Linked DNA regions of Homo sapiens: region 2 is linked to region 1. Evidence: fine-mapped QTL for protein levels in blood plasma. Region 1 holds a variant in brackets. A gene starts in the other region. All regions are shown on their reverse strands.

Region 1 (5,387 bases):
CTGGGCATAACACATTATATGATTTAATTCTCTTAACACCCGGGGAGCTGGTACTAAGTGTTTCTTAATTTTCAGGATTTAGATAAAGGGCCCATTTTTATTTTTTCTTCTGTTTCTCTGTCATCAAATTTTTTAAAAAATTGTATAGAATAAAAGCTAAATATAGACAGATGAAAGAGATACAGAAGAGTTTAATGTAGTCTAGAGAAAATTTCATTCTGTTTATATTTACTTTTTTGACTTGTGCAGCAACTACTGGATCTGCAGGAATAGAAAACAAGTTGCTAAATACAATGTCTCTGCAAGCACTGGTTTTAATAAAAAATTTAAAAACAAACACCTTACAAAACATACTTTTTTTCCCGATTTATCTGCTTTTGAATTTCAGGAAATTGTGAGCACCAGCTCTAGAAAGGCAGCAGGATTCAGCAGCCAAAACTCTGATCTCCTTTAATGAGTTCTGTGAGGCAATACTCCAGGGTAGGTTCAGACCTAACTAAGGTCTCCAAAAAGGATGAATCTGAACACGTCTGGGGCAGGGTGAGAACCCTATGTAGAATTCTGTTCTCTATGCAACTAGGAAACTTCCAGTTTTGTTTTGTTTCTAAGCTTACCTAAAAGAAACTTAAATCCCAGAGTTTCTGTAGTTTTTATCTTTTCTAGTCACTGCCCTGACAACTTTATACTATATACTAGTATGCAACTTAAACAAATCCCTTAAGGTTTTCTAGGGTAATTTTATTAGAAAATAAATATCTACAGTTAGCAAGGTAAAAGAAATAGAAAATATACGGCCAAGCGCGGTGGGTCATGCTTGTAATCTCAAGACTTTGGGAGACCAAGGCGGGTGCAGAACGAGGTCAAGCAGTTAAAGACCAGCCTGATCCAGATGATGAAACCCCGCCTCTAGTAAAAATACAAAAATTAGCTAGGTGCAGTGGCAGGCAACTGTAATCCCAGCTACTCGGGAGGCTGAGAAGGGAAAGTCACCTGAACCCGGGCGGCAGAGTTTACAGTGAGCCGAGATCGTGCCACTGCAAGCCAGACCAGGTGACAGAGTGAAACACCATCTCAAAAAAAAAAAAGAATTTATAACAATTATTTTGTTCATAAATCTCCCTTCAGGTGTAGACATCAGAAGTCACAACAATATAAAGAAAGTGGTCTAAAGCCCAAGATTTTTAACACATCTATTTATTATACCAACCATATGATGCACACTTCAATTACTTATCCAGTAGCTAGTCTAGACTAAAAGTTTCTGGATTGTAGGAACTATGACTGCTTCATGTATTTTTTTAATGCCCATATGAAGTGGAAGGAGCTAGTTTATCTATCTGGGTCTCCAGATCTTCTCCTTATTATCCAAGTACCAGGAAACTGGAGAAGCTGTCATCGGGGTACCAACCAAAGATATCTCTTGTATGAGGGAATGAACAAACACAGGATGACTCATTTCTCTTACACTGAGACAGAAGCAGAATTAACCACTCTTGTCAGCCTGACAAAATTCTGCTCTGGACATCCTCAAATGCCTCAAAGACACCTGGGTGATTGTGAGAGATTCCCAGTGACCCAGGCCTCATGGCCCAATGATAAGCCAGGCTGGAGAGACTCAGGCTAACTCTGAATAGAAAATGGAACTGCCCTGGTGGAGCTCCAGAACCTGGATCACCCATTCTGATTTGCTAGCTCTTGGGTAAGAGAAAGATCAAAAATACTCTACTCTAGTATTACATTTTACAGCTAAATATAATTGTGGTCATGGCTCTGGATACTTTGTGGCCCCGATCTCTCACTCCTAAGATGCTTATTTACACTTACAGATTCTGCCATCTGAGTCTATTTCTCCTGGAGCCCCTCACATAACTGTAGCAGGTCAATGAACAAGATGTGAAAATCTCAAAGAGCCACACTCCCAAATGGGGGCTGTAAGATGTCTATGTTTACATTCACAATGCAGAAAATGACTTTTGTTCATTTTCTGTACATTCTCAATCCAAGTTCTGGTCCTTTCTTGTAAATCCCAGGCAGAGGCCAGACCTTATCTGCAGATTCCAGGTAGGATCCACCTGGCTCTGCATCCTTTGGTGTTACAGCAAGTGGAATACAATCAAAGGAGAGATCCCCTCATAGAGACTACTCTAGCACATTCTAAATGGTAAGTCTACATGAAAAAAAAAAAAAAAAGCTGAAAGAACATGAATATAAGTAGATAGTTTACTTGGGTCAAGCTTAAGGATTATAACCTGGGAGCAAAGATTCAAGTTGCCTGGAATCTGCATTTTGATTACCAGCAGTTACAAGACAATTTGTAAAGACAACAAGACAGGGACAGAGAGTGGGCTGATACAAAGTTGATTGTCAGAAATTTTTATTTATTTACAGAAATAACATCGATTATTGATTACATATATATTATTATGGTTTAGGGTATGGGATATAGTGTCTAATGTGGCATTATTAGTTTAATTTATAATTACTTGTGGCAATAGTGAACAGTTTCAAGAGATGAATACATAGTTCAAAGGGGGGAGAAAGACATAACAGTACTTTCATTTTAATGTCTGAGTTTGATAACCAAAGGGACTTGCATTTCTTAGGTAAGTTTTTTTT[TC/C]CCCCAAATCTCAAGACCTGGATTCAAAATTTGGAGCTTCAAGTTTAGGGCCTGAACGACTGGAGTAGCCACAGGTGTTTACCTGTACATTTGTGAGCATTTAGCAAGAGGAGGAAGGGGAAAGTGGAGATTCTCATGTCTCTATGTCTACTCAGCACACACATGTTACTCTGATTGGGTTTCTGGGCTCCATAGTTTCTGAATCAGTTTCAAATCTGAAGATACAAGAGTCACTGAAAAAGGTTAAATGATTAATTAATTGCTGCCCTGTGAAGTTTGTAGAAATTGGGTCTAGCCTCTCTAGAAGTGACAGTAGAGGAACTATCAATACCAAATAGGCAGAGACAAAATTCCACGTGCATATTTAATGGACAGCATGCATTTTGCTGCGCAAGTATGGGCTGACTCAAAGTCTGAGAGGGAAAGTCCCCTCTACAGTAAATTCTGGTTGGCACCTTATGTGTTTATATCATGTCTGGTAATTCTAGACACTCTGTGGAAACAATAATTAAAAGAAAAATTTTCTCTATTTTCAGAGAAACTCCACAATAATAGAACAGAAAGAAAATGGTCTTATTACACAATTAAACTTGAATGTGACATACATCATCATCAATCTGCTTAAGAGACTGCAAAGTCAGAAAGATGGTCATCATAATTAGTCCACAAGTAGAAGAATTTTCAGCACCATGTCATATATAGTTCATCCTAAATTCACCTGGATACTGAAGAGGCCATCTGTGTATACTAATTGCTTATATTCAATGACAAATAAACTTTTCACATCTTCATAACAGGAGTTGGTTTAGCAGCTTGAAGCCAGGTGTCTGCTGAAGCTAGGCTTTCACTCTGCTACAAAAATGGCTGAATAGTGTTCTTTTTGGCTATTTACATTTTAGAGCAGTGGCTCTGTACTCCCTGGCACTGGGCTACAGCACTCCTGTTTACTTTCTCCTAGTTGCTAGTGTCCTCTCTTTACCGCTACCATCTGCCACTGAGGCACAGCCCAGAGCACAGCTTACATTTTATGTGAACCCCATTTGCCACAGCAGCACTCTAGTGTCACATCAGAGAGTGACGTCTGAGCTGCAGGAGGAGAGCCTGCAGGCGTCATGGATAGAATTTCACCTTCACAATAATCAGAATGTGAGCAGTGTTTCAGCCTCAGTTTCTACTTATAATGATGACATGGAAAAAATACTTCTGAATTTTCAGCATGAGTCCAGATAGACATATCTTCAAAAGTTCTCACTGTGACAGCCCACCTCATTCAGACACCACGGGATACTAATAGGATTTCTGAAACAGACACCCAAAGCATTAGAGAGAAAACCAAATCTCCATCTGAGCAAGATTTTTTTTTTTTTTTTTTTTTTTTTTGAGACGGAGTTTCACTCTTGTTGCCCAGGCTAGAGTGCAATGGTGCGATCTCGGCTCACAGCAACCTCCGCCTCCTGGGTTCAAGCCATCCTCCTGCCTCAGCCTCTGGAGTAGCTGGGATTACAGGCATGTGCCACCATGCCTGGCTAATTTTTGTATTTTTAGTAAAGAAGGGGTTTCTCCATGTTGGTCAGGCTGGTCTCGAACTCCTGACCTCAGGTGATCTGCCCACCTCGGCCTCCCAAAGTGCTGGGATTAGAGGCGTGAGCCACTGCGCCCGGCCAGCAAGATTATTTTGAAAGAAAAAAGGTAAAAAGATCTCAAGAAAAAGCTCAGATTAGATATAAGATTGATCATCAGCCAGAAAATACGCCCCTAAAAGCAATTTATTTCTAAACACCCAAAGTGCACAGCTACTCTCAGTATGAGAAACATGAGCATTATGAAGAAAGAGGGCAGATTTTCAGAAAAATTTTATAAAGTTTCTTTTCCATCTCTGCTGCAGTCTCATTTTCTAGCCATTGAATGGGGGTTCTATATGGAAATCATCTGTCAACTTCCAACAACACTTTTTGATGAAGAAATAGAATCTGACTGTGTTCATACAGTGGAACATATTAGACCTTGTAACATAGTTAACTGAAGAGCTATTATGGTTTTTGGTGGCCACATCACCTGTCTTTATTTGTCCTGTAATAGCAGCGTTCCAATTTAGTGAAACAAAAGATACTAAAATTGTGTTTACCCATAATGATCCCCATTGAATAAAGTAACAAACATGTCAGACTAACTGTAACACTTTGGTAGTAAATTTTCTTTGGATATTAGATATAAATAAGTATGAATATTTTAATGTACCAGTAGTAATGTATGTAGCATTTAAAAAAATTGCAACTATACTTCAAACACTTTATATTTCAAAAGTATAAATAACAATATTAAAATAACCATTTAAGTGATTCATTCAAAGTAAGTATTGCAGCTTTATATTCATACTATTGTAGAATATACTGTTTATGGCTCACACCTGTAATTCCAGCACTTTGGGAGGCTGTGGTGGGTGAATCACCTGAGGTCAGGAGTTCAAGATCAAGCTGGCGAACGTGGTAAGACTCCATCTCTGCTAAAAATACAAAAGCTTAGCCAGGTGTGGTGATGCATGCCAGTTACTCGGGAGGCTGAGGCAGGAGAATCACTTGAACCCAGGAGGCAGCAGTTGCAGTGAGCTGAGATCATGCCACTGCACTGCAGCCTGGGCAACAGAGTGAGACTCTGTCTCAAAAAAAAAAAAAAAGAAAAGAAAATGCTGTTAAATTTATATGAATGCAGGTTGTCTGCAAATACTACACATAACTATGCTAATTGTTCTGAAGTAATAAATAGAAAGCAA
Region 2 (5,387 bases), not on the chromosome of region 1:
TTTATTTCCAGTAAGTTTGTAGTTCACATATTACAGTTATACACATTTTTGTAGTACATGTGATATTTTGATACGTGTATATAATGTGTAATGATCAAATCAGGGTAATTGGGATATGCATCCAAACTAACATTCATCTTTTTTGTGTTGGAATCATTACAATTCTCTTCTAGCTATTTTGGAATATACAGTGAATTATTGTTAAGTATAATTTCCCCATTGTACTATCAACTACTAGAACTTATTCCATCTATCTAACTTCCTCCATTTGGAGAGACTATATTAGTACAGAGCAAGTGAAACATGTGAATACTAATAATGATTCTCATGTTCTAATAAACAGCAATCATTTAATTGGGCATCAGTGAATTTGTCATTGAGAATACATATGAGAATGGATGAGATGTCCAGTCCATGATTACTCTACTATGTACATAATTTAACTGAAGTTCCATCGTCACAAATTACTTCACAACAGAATGGATCAAATCTGTGACGTCCACTTCTCTTTTTGCGGGAAAGTATTATTTTCTTCAATGATGGCTGCCCTTCAGACAGTGGTTTCTTCAGCTCTGGTGACAAATTAGGAATGAATTCTGATGTCGTACCTAAGGCTTGTCCATCTTTGTTGTTGGAGGTTGACACCATTTCTGTGAAGTAAAAGAGAGGAATGAAAGGTGAGGAAAAACATTCATGTGAAAGAGGATCAGAAAAATTATACAATTTGCCTAGACCACAATGTACCCATTGCCTCCATGTAATTAAACACCAGAGAGAATCAGCAAGTATCCTAACATTTCAACAACTTAGCTTACTTAGAGTAGGGCACTTTAAGATACTACAATATTAAGGATATGCTAACTCCTCATCCTGTCCCCTCTATGCACTCTTCTAATGACCCTCTAAATGCCTATACCATACCACTTTTGACTCTCCCTGACACTGTTTTGATTGATAACCTCAATGCATTATGTACTGGATAGCAATAGGGAATTTTTTTTATAATCACAAGTTATTCTAATAGAAAGATTCAGATATTCAAATCTGATCCACATAAATCTATACATCTATATCAGTGGATCTTAGCTAAAAGGCTGAGAAGCAACATACATCTATATGTGTCGACACCAAATGTTAACATTTGTTATCCATGAATACTTTCCATTTTTCTTGTTAAATTTATCTATATTTGTCAAAGTATTTAAATGAGGATTTTCACTTATTTACTGAAAAAAAGTGAAATTTAAATAGAAATTATAGTACAGCATGCTCTTCCTTAGTTTGCATTAGAAATTGTTTGGACTTTGTGGTATTCTTCCCTTATTTTATAGTAAAATGAAACAAGCTCTGACTAATAATGTAAAAAAAGGAAATAACTTTGAAATCGTTATATAAATCACACAAAATCCAAGTGCATTCACTGTGCACGATAACTTTAAACAGAGTCATTTAATGATTTAATGAAGTGTATGCATATGGGTTACAAGAAGCAGTTCTGGAGTCACACATTGCTGGTTCAAAACCTGTGTCATTTGTATTAAATGTAAAACAATGTTTAGTAATTTAACTTAGCTTTTCAGAACTTAATACGACCTATTAGACAGAATATAGTAGCCTCTATCTCTTTTCGAAACTGCCCCTGCTAGTTTTAACTTAGCTGGCAATTTATCTTTATGAATACCTTGTTACTTGGTAAAGTTTGAAAACTATCCTGGTATTGAACTTTCCTCAATTCTGAAATCTTGCTTTTAAAGAAAATGCTTTGCAGTCTCAAATGTTGAAAACACTAATCAAATCAGCTATGATGGTCTGAACAGTGAAATTCCCTTGTCTCTGGTCCCCTTCAATTTCCCCTCTAGTCATCCAGGCCACTTTCTTTCTCTTCATCTCATCTCTCTCAACACACTACAAGAGTAGATTCAAAGAAATGGGAGGCAAGGTGCTCTGTTGGTGTGCATTAAAAAAAACTTTTTTGTAAGAGGACGTTTTTGGTGACATAGACCACTGCCCAGCTTAATGACAAAGGATGAGAGTTATTAAATCTAAGCCCCCTTTATCTCACATTCCAGGAACCTAACAGAGGTCTCAGTGTGCTGCCCCTAGGCCAATAGGTGCATAAACAGAAATGATAATCAGCTCATCACCTCACTGTTTGTCCCCTTTCTTCTTAATTGAAGATGCCTGGCCCAGGCATCTCATTGCAATCACACCTGTTTTCTGGCCTGCCCAGCTTTCCTGGGGGTCTGGGAGTACACCTCACCTCCTGCTGGTGTTTGAGAATAGTCACCTTCTCTGAGGATTCCCTGTTTTCTCCACCCTGTATCTCTGGCTGCCAGGTGGGAAAGGCACCAAGAGCCTCCAAGGTGAGGCTGTTCTTCTGTTTTTCCTGCAGCTTCTCCTCTACCCCCAACTTCCCATGAGATTTCTGGTGAGACCCTTTTAATAAAAGCACATTACAATGAAAAACCACAAACTTGTAGGCACTAGCCACAGTAGAGTCTGAGTTGACTACAGGCAGTCAATGAGATCTGGAGCCTGTTTTTTCAGGCCTCATTCTGATTGTTTGGTAGTCCAGGGCTCTCACCTTTGGGACGTCCAGATTCCAGCAGCCACCCTCCTGGGGTGGTGGTGAATGTCTTCTCAGGCATGGGGCAATATGACAGCAAGTGTTTTCCAAATCGGGGACCACATCCCCTCAGCTCTGCTGCTAGGCTTTCTCTAAGGAGTTGGCTCAGCAGCAGCCAGATTGCTGGCAGATAGGACCGGAACAGGCTGGCCATCCTGGACCTGAACTCTCCTGTTCTGGGTGTTCTCAGCCTTTCTTTAGAGACTTGCTGCTGTAGCCTACCAGACTGTGCTGGTGTGTCCCTTCTGGGCTCCAGACTGCTTTCTGCATGCCTTCATCAGGCATTTATTTGCTTAGGGCTATTACTCAGCTTTTGCGTCAATGGTGTCAGTTCCACCCCTTTCCCACCCACCTACAAGGAACTTTCTCCCTCAGTTCTTATTTAGTCTCCCTACTTGCCCTACCCACACTCTCATATCCCTCTTTGCTCCCAATGTGCTGCTGCACTTTGCTTGTTTTGAATTTGGTTGTTCTACTTCTTTTTCTTAACTTTCCTCCTGTAATACTATTTTTATGCTTACTAAAATAATGGTAATTTTTAATGTCCTTTGCTTAGATGAAATAAAAATAGAACTGACCTGTAAGCTCATTGGCTAGAAATTATCTTAGTTAACATTTGGCATATAAGCTTTTAATTGCGGGGGTCTGTCCCACAGACCCTGACCCAACGACGGATGAATAACATACACTGACACAGATAGTTTGCCTGTCAGTCCAGCTGAGGGTCCGGGCCACCTACAGACACCAAGGAGGGTGCTGTAAAGAGTTGCAGCCGTGGCCCCGATCAGCCAGCAAAGCTCACATTTATTCAGCATAGATTAAATGACGAAGGTCTTGAGTAAACACCACTAGAAGGTAATTGACATTGCCAACCTCCCGAGTAGAGAGCAATTATGCACCCGCGGTTGATCAAAGATTAGTCTTAGGACCACATGAGTAAACAAACTAGATAAACTACATTCATTTGTATCTGTGCCTTAAGCTATTAACTCAAGGTAAGGATTAGGCTGCCTTCAGCCTGATCTATTACTGGAGCTTATACAAACCCCTCCGGCGTTTCAAAAAGGTTTGCGTCTTTTTCTTATAACTATCTGAAAAAATTTTCCCACCAGCCTGACTGAACTCTCACATCTCCCCCCTTTCTGTTCTTTGCATCGGGTTCTGTTGACTTAAGAGTACAGATGTGTGCAGCAACAGGTTTGTTAGGTTTTGCTTTTATTCCGGCTTTGCATCATAGAATTAGCAAATAACGTAAGACAATCATGAGTATAATTAGTAACATTCCTTTCCAGTCAAAGTGTGACCCCCAGGATCGGGGGTATAACCAGGAGAAATGATCTTGCACACCTTTCCATATGGCTGTTTGTTGAGTATGTAGATCTATCATGTGAAGGGATTCTAAAATTTTAGTTTTAAGTTGCTTTACGTCTGCTGTTAAATTGTCATGAAAGTTTCCCCAGAGGTGTTGTTTCACCTCATCCCAACTATGTATTGATTGATTCCAAGGTAAAAATGTGACACAGATATGTTTATGCTCCCAGTCACAGTTTAATTGCTATCAGAATGCTAGGGCATCTTGTCGCTCCCCCACAAATTCCAAGGCAGCCTCGAGGGCTTGCAGACGTGCAAGAATCTCTTGATCTATACCCTGCTGTAAGAGAAGTTCATTAGACACATTTCTGGCCAAATTGTCTACAAAAGCAGCTGTTTGCACTGATTCGGTAGTAGATGCTATAGCCACACTAGCAGTTGCTAGGATGACTATGGCTGAGACTATAAAGGTTATAAGTGTGCCTATAAATCTTTTGGGTCTGACCTGGGATAGGGCACATTCTAAGGTGGCAAAGGAAGAGGAACCTTGCCAATAGTGTGTCAAATTGACGGGTAGGAATGCCTCAGATTGTCTCCTTAATACCATGACACTAGTAGTATTTAAATTAGATATATTGTAATTAGTGGTACATGAGGCAAACAAAGCCTGTCCTTGCACCCGGGTCACAAACATGGAATTTTGGGTTGTAATAGAAATATTAGTTCCCATAAGGAAAACATATGGATGGAGTTGCAAATTAGGGACTGATCAGTGTGATTATGAATAAAGGTTATAGTATAGTTGTTACTGTAATTATGATATGTCCCATGCCAGGTGTCAAGGGAGGTGCTAAGATGTCCCAGGCAACATAAAGTGTCTTGGGGAGGCATCAACTTTACTCGGGGTCTGGGATATCCTATCCTCCCATCGGCCCAAATCATAAGGGAATGGGACGAGGCTATGAAACTGTGATCGATGCCATGATGGATGAGGATATCAGTAAGGCTGCCCTACAAATGGCCACAGGGGCTCCAGTCTAGGATGTTATAATTGCCTAACTGGAGGCTATGAGCTTATTCCCCATGACAGATCTCCCAGCTAAAGTGGAATCCGTTATTTTTCCGGCTTTGTTCTTTAGCACAGGAAGGAATGTTTGGGAAAGCAGACTTGATTTCCGTTTTGAGGCTACCTGCAGCTAAGACTGTTAAGGCACTTCTTTTGCCATGATGTAGCCATAATTGTGTTTCAGTAGGTGCACACTAAGGGTTAGAACATTTATAATTTACACACAATGGGAGGATAGTAGAGTGATCTGTAGTGTTATCTGGCACCTTAGTCCAATGTGTGCCATTATTGAGGAACCCCACTGGGGGTAAATCTATCCCTCCTAGCTAAGCAGTCACGTTATTAAAGGCTGGGAAGGGGTTGTATACCCAAGTGACAGGGCAA

Direction of the effects. Alleles are on the strand shown, and positions count from the first base shown. The strength of an association depends on the size of the effect and on how common the allele is.
With allele C in place of TC in region 1, the plasma level of the protein whose gene starts at base 2,885 in region 2 is lower (weak association).

The links. PIP is the chance, under the fine-mapping model, that this variant and not a neighbour inherited with it causes the effect. Protein levels are from antibody-based Olink assays in UK Biobank. Linkage for the fine-mapping came from a reference panel and not from the study's own genotypes, which makes the PIPs less certain.
Region 2: INSL4 starts here. The variant in region 1 is fine-mapped to the plasma level of the INSL4 protein (UK Biobank, PIP 0.97).

What each region holds. Positions count from the first base shown.
Region 1 is chr19:19,907,454-19,912,840 of GRCh38, reverse strand. The region is part of intron 1 of ZNF93 (zinc finger protein 93); the gene reads right to left. It also overlaps the pseudogene BNIP3P47. Among named protein-coding and RNA genes, the nearest start is that of ZNF93, 9.2 kb to the right of the region's middle. The variant TC/C (reference allele first, on the strand shown) is at 2,617.
Region 2 is chr9:5,228,917-5,234,303 of GRCh38, reverse strand. INSL4 (insulin like 4) reads right to left here and starts at 2,885. Exons shown (of 2, transcript NM_002195.2): 1 at 2,585-2,885; 2 at 1-650. The coding sequence starts at 2,780. The coding sequence ends at 427. RefSeq lists a promoter at 2,791-3,608.